Homo sapiens: one gene and its partners. The protein of the gene in region 1 purifies or fractionates together with the protein of each later gene. This does not show direct contact. Each region holds a gene or a part of one and is shown on either strand. Other genes may lie near its edges. The genes, in order: ABL2, KRABD3 and PACSIN1.

Evidence for each region.
Region 2: the proteins of ABL2 (region 1) and KRABD3 purify together in Homo sapiens (co-immunoprecipitation; one large-scale study listed by IntAct). This does not show direct contact.
Region 3: the proteins of ABL2 (region 1) and PACSIN1 purify together in Homo sapiens (co-immunoprecipitation; one large-scale study listed by IntAct). This does not show direct contact.

Annotation. Positions count from the first base shown.
Region 1 is NC_000001.11:179,219,487-179,223,202, reverse strand, and holds part of ABL2 (tyrosine-protein kinase ABL2), read left to right. Parts: intron 1-3,716. UniProt on the Homo sapiens protein: Non-receptor tyrosine-protein kinase that plays an ABL1-overlapping role in key processes linked to cell growth and survival such as cytoskeleton remodeling in response to extracellular stimuli, cell motility and adhesion and receptor endocytosis.
Region 2 is NC_000007.14:149,728,285-149,732,000, forward strand, and holds part of KRABD3 (protein KRBA1), read left to right. Parts: intron 1-238; coding exon 239-391; intron 392-903; coding exon 904-1,086; intron 1,087-1,203; coding exon of another isoform or gene 1,204-1,244; exon of another isoform or gene 1,245-1,467; intron 1,468-1,862; coding exon 1,863-2,057; intron 2,058-2,143; coding exon 2,144-2,284; exon of another isoform or gene 2,285-2,429; intron 2,430-3,387; coding exon 3,388-3,492; intron 3,493-3,716.
Region 3 is NC_000006.12:34,464,747-34,468,875, reverse strand, and holds the start of PACSIN1 (protein kinase C and casein kinase substrate in neurons protein 1), read right to left. Parts: upstream 2,801-4,129; 5' UTR 2,606-2,800; intron 1-2,605. UniProt on the Homo sapiens protein: Plays a role in the reorganization of the microtubule cytoskeleton via its interaction with MAPT; this decreases microtubule stability and inhibits MAPT-induced microtubule polymerization.

The DNA of each region.
Region 1 (3,716 bases):
GGCTCAAGTGATTCTCCCACCTTGGCCTCCCAAAGTGCTGGGATTACAGACATGAGGCCCTGCATCTGGACTTTTTTTTTTTTTTTTTTTTTTGAGAGGGAGCCTTGCTCTGTCTCCCAGCCTGGAGTGCAGTGGCGCGATCTTGGCTCACTGCAACCTCCTCCTCCTGGGTTCAAGCAATTCACCTGCCTCAGCCTCCCGAGTAGCTGGGATTACAGGCGGCTGCCACCACACCTGGCTAATTTTTGTATTTTAGTAGAGATGGGGATTCACCATGTTGGTCACACTTGTCTCGAACTCCTGGCCTCAAATGATCCGCCCACCTCAGCCTCTCAAAGTGTTAGGATTACAGGCGTGAGCCACTGTGCCCGGCCTGTTTTTTTTTTGTTGTTGTTGTTATTTTAAAGGTATTTTAAATATATTCCTCTGAATATCATCTTTAAAGGATCTGACATGATTTTTGTCAAAATAAATCATAAGGTGTAACCAGTTTGTGGGTTCCTGGTGAGTTTCAGGCCAGGCGCGGTGGCTCATGCTGGTAATCCCAGTACTTTGGGAGGCCGAGGTGGGTGGATGACGAGATCAGGAGATCGAGACCATCCTGGCCAACATGGTGAAACCCTGTCTCTGCTAAAAATACAAAAATTAGCTGGGCATGGTGGCGCGCACCTATAATCCCACCTACTCAAGAGGCTGAGGCAGGAGAATCGCTTGATCCTGGGAGGCAGAGGTTGCAGTGAGCCGAGATCGTGCTACTGTACTCCACCCTGGGCAACAGGAGCAAAACCCTGTCTCAAAAAAAAAAATTAGCCAGGCATGGTGGCGGGCACCTGTAATCCCAGCTACTCAGGAGGCTGAGGCTGTAGAATCACTTGAACCTAGGAGGCGGAGGTTGCAGTGAGCTGAGATCACGCCACTGCACTCCAGCCTGAGGGACAGGGCGAAGACTCTGTCTCAAAAGAAAAAAAAGTTAAGTGTAAGCCAGTACACTGACCTCTCCATGAACTTTTCACAGTAGGAACTTTAACACTTTCCGCAGAGTATCCTGTTCTTCTAGGCTTTTCATAGAATGCGAAGTTAATGGCATGTGATGTTCCATAGCATAATCTGCTAAAAAGTGATCATCTCCTTGGAAGAAAAGCCGTGGGCTGCAATCACACATCCAAATTGACAGACATCTGAATGGATTCTATATAGAAAGAAAAGATTCGTGTCTTCTGGAATATGAATGTCCACTTTTAATAAATTCAAACAGATCCTGACATAAACATCATGGGTTTTACGTGACCCATCATTTCATGGATCCTTGGCACCAAATCTTTGGGCATTGTATAACCCAACCCACTGCAGTAGGGAGGAAACACCTTGAAAGGACACTCCTGGTATGAAATACGTTTTTTTTTTTTTTTGGTAAAATCCTCTATGGGAATAATTATCAATTAGGGGATAACCTGTGAAAAACTTCTCTGAGTGGTTTAAGTTTAAAAGATACTACACTAAATTGCCAGTATTGATGAACACATAAGTGTCTGTTGTCATGATGTAGTTGGCAATGGGGCAAAACTCAGTTACCCACCTGAATGCCATAATAGGTTGTTTTTGTTGTTTGTTTGAGACGGAGTCTTGCTCTGTCACCCAGGCTGGAGTGCAGTGGTGCGATCTTGGCTCACTGCAGCCTCCACCTCCTGGGCTCAAGCAATTCTTGTGCCTCAGCCTCCCAAGTAGCTGGGATTACAGGCACACGTCACCATGCCTGGCTAATTTTTGTATTTTCAGTACAGATGGGTTTTCACCATATTGGCCTGGCTGGTCTCAAACTCCTGGCCTCAAGTAATTCACCTGCCTTGACCTCCCAACGTGCTGGGACTACAAATGTGAGCCACTGTGCCTGGCCAGTTTTCAAGGTCAGGTTTTTGTATGTGTCTAAAAAATCTCGTTGGATTACATCACTATAAAGAAGATGTTAATCGTCCGAGGACAGTGCTAACAGTTTGTCTTCTCTTTTAGCCCGTTGGCCTACTAAGAAAAATGTGAGAACCTCATATCGCCATCAAGACTTTTTTCACCCCAAGTAACTCTAATGGCCTGTCTGGCTTTCACATCTGAGGGGTGGGAGGTCACTAGGATAACCAGAATTGGATTTTGATCAGAGCAGTTTGAATGCTCTCAAAATGTGAAGTGAAAGCCTCATCTGTAAATTGGCTCATACTTGTAAAAGTACATCCAGTCTACATATTCTGTCACATTGTAGTGGGGAAGGCTGAGAGGTACCACATCAGGAGGAGAGTCAGGAGTGGCAGCAGCAGGAGACCCCATGTGAGAGATCTCAGTGGGAAGGGCAGTCTGGAGAGCCAGGGCCATCCACAGCAGCTCAGAAGCTTGCGAACTGCAAGTTCTTCTTGATTGATTTCTTCTGAGTGAAAAGACCTTCAGTTTCACCAGTTGAACATTCAGCAGTATGTAGCTGTCAGAAATAATGCTACTGAAAACCAGACTTTCAGACTGGCTTAAAATCCTGCCATATACTGCTTATAAAACACATACCTGTAGAATTTCAGCAGAGATTAAAGCACTAGCTGAAGTTTGTTTTCTGTATTCCATGCTTTAGTCAAAACACTCAAGATTTGCTGTGAACTACTCCATAAACAGAAAAAAAGACATGGTTTGGTAATTTCTTCCTTGGTAGATTTTCCTGACAAAGTGACCATCGCCTAAACAAGGCACTGTCCTGTGCGGCACATACCCAGCTCACAAGTGGCAGGCAGCTGGTGCTCAACCTGCTTTAAACGGAAAACAAAAACCAAACAAGAAAAACCAGCATCTCCCCACCATTGTATGTTTTTATTCCTCTTTACTTCAGTCTCTTTCAAAATAGGGAATGATAATGTTTGTGTAGTTTTTAGAGCTTTTGAAGAAGACCTTTTATGTCTTTCATCTCACTTGACCTTTACAACTACTCTGAAATAGGTGAAGCAGGTATTAATCTTCCCATTTTGTAGATGAAGAGTTTAGAAAATTAAGTGACTTCTTGAGGTTACATAGCTGTTAAATGATAGAGCTGGGACTGATAGTTTTGTCTCCAAGTCTTGCCATAATGTGGAGATTTAGAGAATGTGGGTTTTAAAATCAGTTATAATTGGATATAAATCTTGCTTTGTGTCTGACATTGGTACATGGTTTATCCCTCACAACAGGTTGTTGAAATAATTAAGTGATAAAATTGTACGAGACTCTTAAGTGCCAGGCACTGTGGTGCTCAATAAATATCAGTTTTATTGTCATTATTTACCTCAAGATGATTGTGAAGATTATATGAGTTGTATGTGAAAATGTTTTGTAAACCTAAGCACTGCTATTGTTATCATTGTGATGGCATGCCAAAGTGTAGAATTGCCTTAGCATTTATATTTATTACTTCATTTTCTCTTCTTATTAAGCTACTCTTATTAGAGGACTTTCAGAAAGCAGTAAAAGGTAAGGGAATTTTGGGGATCTGAAATCACAGGAGAATCTGAAATCACTTTAGGTCTACCTTCCTTGTAAGGTAAGTGATATCCTCTCTAGACCATTTGTCTTTGTCTTAGGGACTGGGTATCAGTATATGTAGTGCCTGGTTCTTGTAGACATCTTTTTCTTCCATCAAAGAACTTGAACCAGAAACACTGGCCAATGCAAATTTAAAGTTGATAGAGACTTCATTCTAAGTTGGCCCATTT
Region 2 (3,716 bases), on another chromosome or scaffold:
CCAACGCCCTCATGACAGCCGCAGGCCAGGCTTCTATGTGGGTGGCCAGGACAGGCCAGGCTTCTTCCACGGCAGCCAAAGCAGGGCCGCGCCAGAGCCAGGACTGACACGTCCAGTGCTCTGTGCCCAGCACCCCTGTGACCCCCCTTCCCTGGACACAGCAGAAGACAGGGGGCTTCTGCAGTTTGCAGAGATTGAGCTACAGTCCCCCTCATCTGTGAATGTTTGATCTTCACAGGAAGCCCACCAGGAAGCTCCCCACTGCAGGGTCTGGAGAATTGTCTCAAGGAGATACCTGTGCCTGTGCTGCGGCCTGCCTGGCCCTGCTCCTCAGCAGCAGACAGGGGACCGAGGAGAGCAGAGCCCAGGAACTGGACAGCAGACAAGGAAGGTAATAGTGGCTGCCGGGGCCCTGGGTGTAGACAGGGCTGCTCTGAGGATGCCCTAGGCGCTGCACCTGTGGGCTCAGATCTGCTCCTGAGCCAACATGGTGCTCTGGAAACAGACCTGGGCAGAGCCTTGTTGGAGGCCAGAAAGCCAGATAGTCTGCAGCACACACGTGTAGACCTGCTGGCACCTTAGTGCCACTGTCTGCGGTTCCACCATCCCAGCTGGAGCTGGCTCCTTGTGGCTGGGTGTCCTTGTCCCGGCCGTGCCAGCCCCACGAGCCTTGGTGTCTGGGCACCAGTCTCCAAGCCCAGGGGTCCACGCAGCTGGGTCTGGGAATAGAGATGTTCTGGAGGGTTCAGGCGCTCCCTGGAACATGACAGATGGGTGTTTCCCACACCTGATGCTGGTGTGCCTGAGAGCCCAGCAATGGCAGAAACTGTTCCCTGTCCCTTCTTCTGTGGCAGCACGAGGCCCCGTGGGGCTGACAGGCCTTCTGATTTCTCATTAAAACAGGACTGAGGGCTGAGGCCTGCGAGTCAGCCCGTCTCGGGCAGGGTAGGGGAGAAGCGCCCACCCGGAGCCTCCATCTGGTCAGCCCACAGGTGTTCACCTCCAGCTGCGTCCCCGCCTGCCACCAGCGGGGGTTCAAAGACCCTGGGGCCACCAGGCCAGGAGTGTGGAGGTGGCTCCCAGAGGGTGAGCTGGCACCTGCCCTCGGTACTGACAGCCCCACTTCAGTTAAAGTGTTTGACAAGGAAATAGACTTCCCTCTCTGTCCCTCTGTTTCTTCCCCATCTCTCATCCTTTCCCCAGAGGACAGAAGCTGGTGCCAAACAGAAACTGAGGTTCGCTAAACAAGAAGATAAAGTGTCACAAAGTGCTGACAAGGAGCGGGGTCGGGAAGATCATTGTTTGTGTCCATCCATTGGGTTTCTCCAGTGGAGAAGCTTCTTGAGGGGGCTCCCGCCGTCCACTGCTGCTGCTTGGTTTAACTTCCAGCAGAATTCCTTCCTAGATCTGCTGCAGGGCCTGCTGGGATGCCTTTGCTGAATAAATGCGGTTTTGCTGACCCTCCCATCAGACGAGGATGGGCCCTAACTGAGCCCCACCCTTGGGCTGCTGGCCCCTGTGAGATACTGGGGTGCAGGGATGGCACCTGCCTGGTGGGAGAAGCCGCCTGGCCTGTGAGACCTAGGCCTGGCTAGAACCTGACTGCTAATGGCTTCCAAGGACTGGAGACTTCCAGAAAGTTCCCCAGCAGACTTTCCAAAGCTGCTGGGGTCCTGGCCAGGCTCTGGCTTCACTTTTGTCCTCTTTCTCTGGCAAGAGAGGCAGCCATTTAGGGTCCACTAGAACGCATGCTGATCGTGGGCTGAGCTGAAAAGGGGACCGGTTCTGTGTGCCCAGACACTAAGGCAGAGACCTGGCTCTCTTCAGGCTGATGACAGAGCACTCTCTGGTCCCCTGCCCAGGGTCTGCCCCCAAGCCCTCCCCGCTGCACTGCCTGGAGAGCGCCCTGAGGGGGATCTTGCCTGTAAGGCCCTTGCGCTTCGCCTGCGTGGGAGGCCCCAGCCCCAGCCCCAGCCCCGGCTCCAGCTCGAGCTTCAGCGGCTCTGAAGGAGAAGACCCGAGGCCAGAGCCTGATCTCTGGAAGCCGCTCCCCCAGGGTGAGCCTGTGCGGAGAGGGAGGATAGCGGGATGTGTGCCAGGGCGCCAGTCACCACTCTGATGCCAGCTTTGTTTGTGACGTTAGAGAGGGACCGCCTTCCCAGCTGTAAGCCTCCTGTCCCTCTGTCCCCATGTCCTGGTGGGACCCCTGCTGGCAGCAGTGGCGGCAGCCCTGGTGAAGACCCCAGGAGAACAGAGCCCAGGTACTGCAGCGGCCTCGGTGCAGGTGAGCCTGGGGTCTCCTGAGGGGGCGCCCATGCGTTCCCCAGAGGACCAGGAGTCCAGACTGGATCCTTTGAGTCCTGCCTGTCGCTTTGCCTGGCTCTTGCCAGGGAGTCCTGCACATTGGCCGTGCTTTAGTTCCCTGTAAGGTGAGCTGTGTCCGAGAAGGAGGGCGGGGCTGCTGGGGGTGCTGGTGAGCAGCTGCAGGGAGGTCTGAGCCACTCACTTGATGCCACGTACACGGTGTTTGCGCTTGCTAATATACACGTGTGCATGTAGACAGATGTGGATGTATTTATACAATAATAGCGTATGCTTTTAAAACTTGGCAATCAATAACAAAAGTCTCAAAAGTGAGATTTCCCCAGCTGGGGGTACTTCTTGGAGAGTGTCCCATTAGGAAAGCTAGAATGCTGCCTATTGCCCCAGGCCACCTTGCTTCTCAATCTCACTGTGACCCACTGTTTGCTCCTAGCAGAAAAAGCAGATGGGACAGGAGACAGGTCCCAGTTGCCTGGGAGAAAAGAGAGTTTAGAGAGTACCTGCTGTCCTGGCCCCCTCAGGAGTGCTGGAGGACGAGGACGAGGAGGGAGAAGCAGTGGTAGAAGGAGGGAGAAGCAGGGGAGAAGGAGGAAGAGGCCAGAAATGGTCAGGGGAGGGAGCTCTCCCCAACTCCTGCAGCTGGCTCCATTTACAGGCATTGGCCCTGGTCTGTGTAGACCCAGGCTGCACCACATTCTTCACTCCGCAGTGGGCCTAGTGGAAAATGGCAGAGTGGGCTGGGTGTGGACCACAGGATGCCCCAGCACGCCCTTGGAAGTCTCACTGGGGCAGGACCCGCAGATGAGAGTCCTTTTTCCCAGCTGCCTCCCCAGCCGCCTCCTCCTGCCGGAGCCCCCTGCATACAGGGCAGGAACACCACACACACACGCACCGCGGCGGGCCCTGCCACCAGAATTAGGCTCCCTCATGGGCCAAGTTTCCGTCTTCTATCTCATTTAATCATTGTTTAAAAGTTGAGAGTTTGATATTGTTTTAGGGTATGTCAGAATGGCTCTGGCCAAACGATCGTCTCCCTGCCCCAAGGTCTCTGTGCTCTTTCTATAGGTACAGCTCAGGATCCCTGCCCGGTTTCTCAGCTGGAGAAAAGGCCCAGGGTTAGTGAAGCATCCAGAGGCCTGGAGCTTGGACATGGAAGACCCAGAGTTGCAGGTGAACTGGTGGCTTCCCCCATTCCCTCTGCACGGGCCAGGACCCAGAGCCCCAGCTTGGGGAAAACAGCCTTCCAGGGTCAGTGTTTGAGTGATGGGTAGGAAGTCTCACCTGTAATGCACTTCAGGTTGCATATTTCCTTTCAGTGTTTTATCACAGAAGCAGTTGGGATTTTCATAAAAGCAGACACACCTTTTAGAGGTGGAAATTGAGAAGTGAAGGAT
Region 3 (4,129 bases), on another chromosome or scaffold:
TACTCTGTGCCAGGCCATGGGGCCACCGGAAACAGCACACAGACTCTGCCCCCACAGACCCCACAGCCCAGCAGGGAGAGGACACTGCATGATGGGAGGGTTCCCAGGGGAGGCAGCCAGGCTGTGGGGAGGGGATCATGGGTGGGGTTCCCAGCCCAAGCTGGGGAAGCTTCTGGAGGAAAAAGGAGTCTCAGTGGACTCCCGAGGGTGAGAGATTTGGGTGGGAAGGAAGAGGGAGAGGAGGAGACAGGAACAGCCTGTGCAAAGGCCTGCAGGTGACAGAAGCCCCACTTGCTTGAGGAACTGAAAGTAGCTCAGGGCAGCCAGGGGGCAGAGGGAGGGCAAGAAGGGAGAGTCAGCCTGGGTGTGGGAATGGTGGCAGAGCCACGTTAGGGAGACTGCATGGCTGTCAAATAGCAATGCGAGCCATTGTGGAATGAATGAATGATTGAATGACTGAATGTCAACTCTGGAAAATAGCTGGCAACCTGAGGGAGGGGGTTGAGTCCCTTCTTGGGCTTTCCCTCTATTCCCCAGGACCAAAGAGCCACCCAAACCAGACAGTTCTCTTTAGGCCCCTCCTAAGCCTGGAAATCTTGATGTCCTTCATAGACACAGGCCTGTGGCTAAGCCAGAACCCTTGTTGGCAGCCTCTTCCTCTGAAGTGGGTTTGCTCCTCCACACACTAGGGTCATGAGACCCCTGAGAGCTTGCTATGAAGACCTTAGAGGCTGAGGAAGGCCTGGCTTGGGCCTTCCCAGCTTCCCTGATGTTGACCTGGATTTTCCCAAGGGCTGGGACAGAGGCAGAGACTCTGGTCTAAAGTTGGCACCCCGGGAAGAAAGTGCCAACCCAGCGGCCTGAGGAGAGCCAGACCTTCACATCAGGCCTTCCCTCAAGCCAGGACCAGGCCTGGACACTCAAACCAGGGGCCCATAAGACCCTCTGGAGCCAGCAGGTTGCAACACTATCTCCAAAAGGCATAGCTGCCCATCAACTCCAGGCTTAGGAAGGGCCTAGCCGGGCATGATGGCTCAGGCCTGTAATCCTAGCACTTTGAGAGGCCAAGGTGGGCAGATCACCTGAGGTCAGGAGTTCGAGACCAGCCTGACCAACATGGAGAAACCCCGTCTCTACTAAAAATATAAAATTAGCCGGGTGTGGTGGTGCATGCCTGTAATTCCAGCTACTCAGGAGGCTGAGGCAGGAGAATCGCTTGAACCCGGGAGGCAGAGGTTGCGGTGAGCTGAGATCGTGCCATTGCACTCCAGCCTGGGCAACAAGAGCGAAACTCTCTCTCAAAAAAAAAAAAAAAAAAAAAAGGAAGGGCCTACTAAAGAGAACCACCTGGTTTGAGTGGAGTGGCTCTTTGGTCCTGGGGAATAGAGAGAAAGCCCAAGAAGGGGCTCGACCCCCTCCCTCAGGTTGCCAGCTATTTCCCAGAGTTTACATTCACTCATTCAATAAGTCATGCATTCCACAAGATATTTTCTTGGTGCCAAACCCTGCTTTGGTGCAGGGGCAATGACAGAGATGAATCAGATTCCCAGCCTGAAGGTACTTCTGGTCTAGAAGGAGATGAACAAGACAAATAACCCAGCCACAAGGCAGTCCAAGAACATAGGGCAGGGGGCAAGGATCTCACCTGGGGTATCAGGGAAGCTGCTGGAGGGTGATGATTTGGACTTGTGATAGAAAGGCCAGGATGGAGGATGGAAGCAAAATCACTGACAGACAGTCCTGTTTGCACCCCAGCTGTGCCAGGGGCTGGGGCAATGTGGGTTATTTATGGTTGTGCCTAGAAATAAGCGGCCATATGTGTCACTGCCTATGTGGTGCAGACCTGGGCTGTTGTGGGTAGGGGCAGCTGGGGCTTGAAGCTGGGTCTGGCCAAGCTCCCGGGTTTGCCACCATGTCTCCTACACCCTGATGACCCTTTAACCTTTTCATAGCCTCTTGTAAGGTGAAAATAAGGGGCAGAGGCAGCTCCAACAGGCAGCAAGTGGCCTGGGGCTTGCAGGGGAGGGCAGTGCCCAGCAGCCCATGGCTTCTGTATCTGCGGGGCCTTTTAGCATTATCGCCTCCTTCTTGCCTCCTCCCCCCTCCCCGCTCCCATCCCAGCTGTGGGGGAAGGGGTAGGGGACAGAAGGAAATACCTTTAACCATAAGCCAGACAGGCATCAGCTGCTGTGTTTCTCCCCAGCCCACTCTGATCCATAAATAGCCTATGCACCAAGCTGGCACCAGCCCACCCACCCCTTCTGGTAGCAGTCCAGAGACCCGGACCGCCCGGGCCCAGGCCCCAGCTTCCCAAGGAACCTATTTCCGGCGCTTTTCCTGGGGTAAGGGCCTCCGATGCCAGCTCGCTCCCCCAAGGGACCCAGCGCAGTGGCATCCTGGCACTGCCTGGGTGATGCCCGCGAACTCCGTCCCCTGAAGGCATCCCCGAACGCGCACCCGCTTCTCTCCAGGCAACTGCCCAACCCTGCCCGGGCTCTGGCCCAGGGAGATGTCAGTCCCGGCGCCCACTTCCAACACGCACTCCCTAACTGGACACCCGCACACACAACCCCCCCGCCCTCTATTCAAGGGCCAGACCTCCTACCTGGGGGCAGGAGCTCCGGGGACCATCGGCGGCGACTCGGGGCGAAGCGGGACGTCTGGGGCCCGGCCTCAAGCCCGGCCGACTTCCCGGGGGAGGAGGGGGCTGGCGCTGCCGCCGCCACCGCGTCGCTCTGGGATCTCGCCGGGGCTGCGGGAAGGAGGAAGGTCAGAGCTGAGGCGGAGAGGGGGGAAGGATGAGGAGGAGGCGTGCACCGAGCAGAGCAGATTAGAGAGGCATTTTTAGCGAGCCAATGGTAGCGCGGGCAGGGCGGCGCGGTGGCTGCGCAGGTGGACGCGCCGCGGCTGCCGGGGAGGCAGCAACCAGTTTGGCAGGCGCCGGGGGTGGCGGGTGGCGGGTGGCGGGTGGGGTCCGGCTCCCCGCTGCTTCAGCCGACCCCTGCCCCAGCAGTCTTGCCTGGCTCCCTCTTCTGGGGGCTGCCCGCGGCCCCGCGCGTGCCGGGAGCCCTCCGGTGCGCCCTCCTCCCCAGCCCTCCCAGCTGGCGCGCTCGGAGCCCGGGATGTTGCTCCCTGCCTCTCTCCCCATCTCCCCATCGCCTTGGCCTTTCCTCCTCTCCCGAGCCTCGGCGTCCCTTGGTGCGTGCGGGTGCCTGTGTGGTGGGTGTGTTGAAGACGTGCGTGTGAGCTGACTTGGGAGCGACACCCCCTGCACCACCGCCCCACTGATGCCCACCCCTGCCCGCAGCTTCTGCCCTGTGACCCCATGGGGCGGGATCGCTAACCCTCATGTCCTAGTTCCAGCAGGACCGGCTGTCGCCAAAGCAAACTCCAGGCCATGTCGTTGGAGCTCTCTAGGGGGCTTGGGGCCTAATAGGGGACCCTCAACGGCCTTCACTCTTCCGAACTTGAGCCCTGAATGCTGCCTGGAGCCTGGACGCTGCAGGGAGGAGCGGGGCACATACCTATTGAAGGCCTGTTCTGTATCAGGCACTGATGAGGGGCTGGGCTGCAGCAGAGGACAGAACAGACCAAAACTCTGCCATCTCATAGTTCACATGTGTGAGGGAAGATAGATACTCAATATCAGCAGCTAAGAGTGTTTTGTTTGGTTTTTGTTGTTGTTGTTTTGTTTTGTTTTGAGACGGAGTTTCGCTCTTGTTGCCCAGGCTGGAGTGCAATGGCACGATCTCGGCTCACCACAACCTCCGCCTCCCGGGTTCAAGCGATTCTCCTGCCTCAGCCTCCCGAGTAGCTGGGACTACAGGCGCGAGTCACCACACCCAACTAATTTTGTATTTTTAGTAGAGATGGGGTTTCTCCATGTTGGTCAGGCTGGTCTCGAACTCCCGCCCTCAGGTGATCTGCCCGCCTTGGCCTCCCAAAGTGCTGAGATTACAGGCGTGAACCACTGCGCCGGGCCAAGAGTGTATTTTAAAGTGGTATGCACAGAGTAGAAAAATAAAGCGGGAGCCAAGAGCGGTGGCTCACGCCTGTAATCCCAGCACTTTGGGAGGCCGAGGCGGGCGGAACACGAGGTCAGGAGATCGAGACCATCCTGGCTAAAACG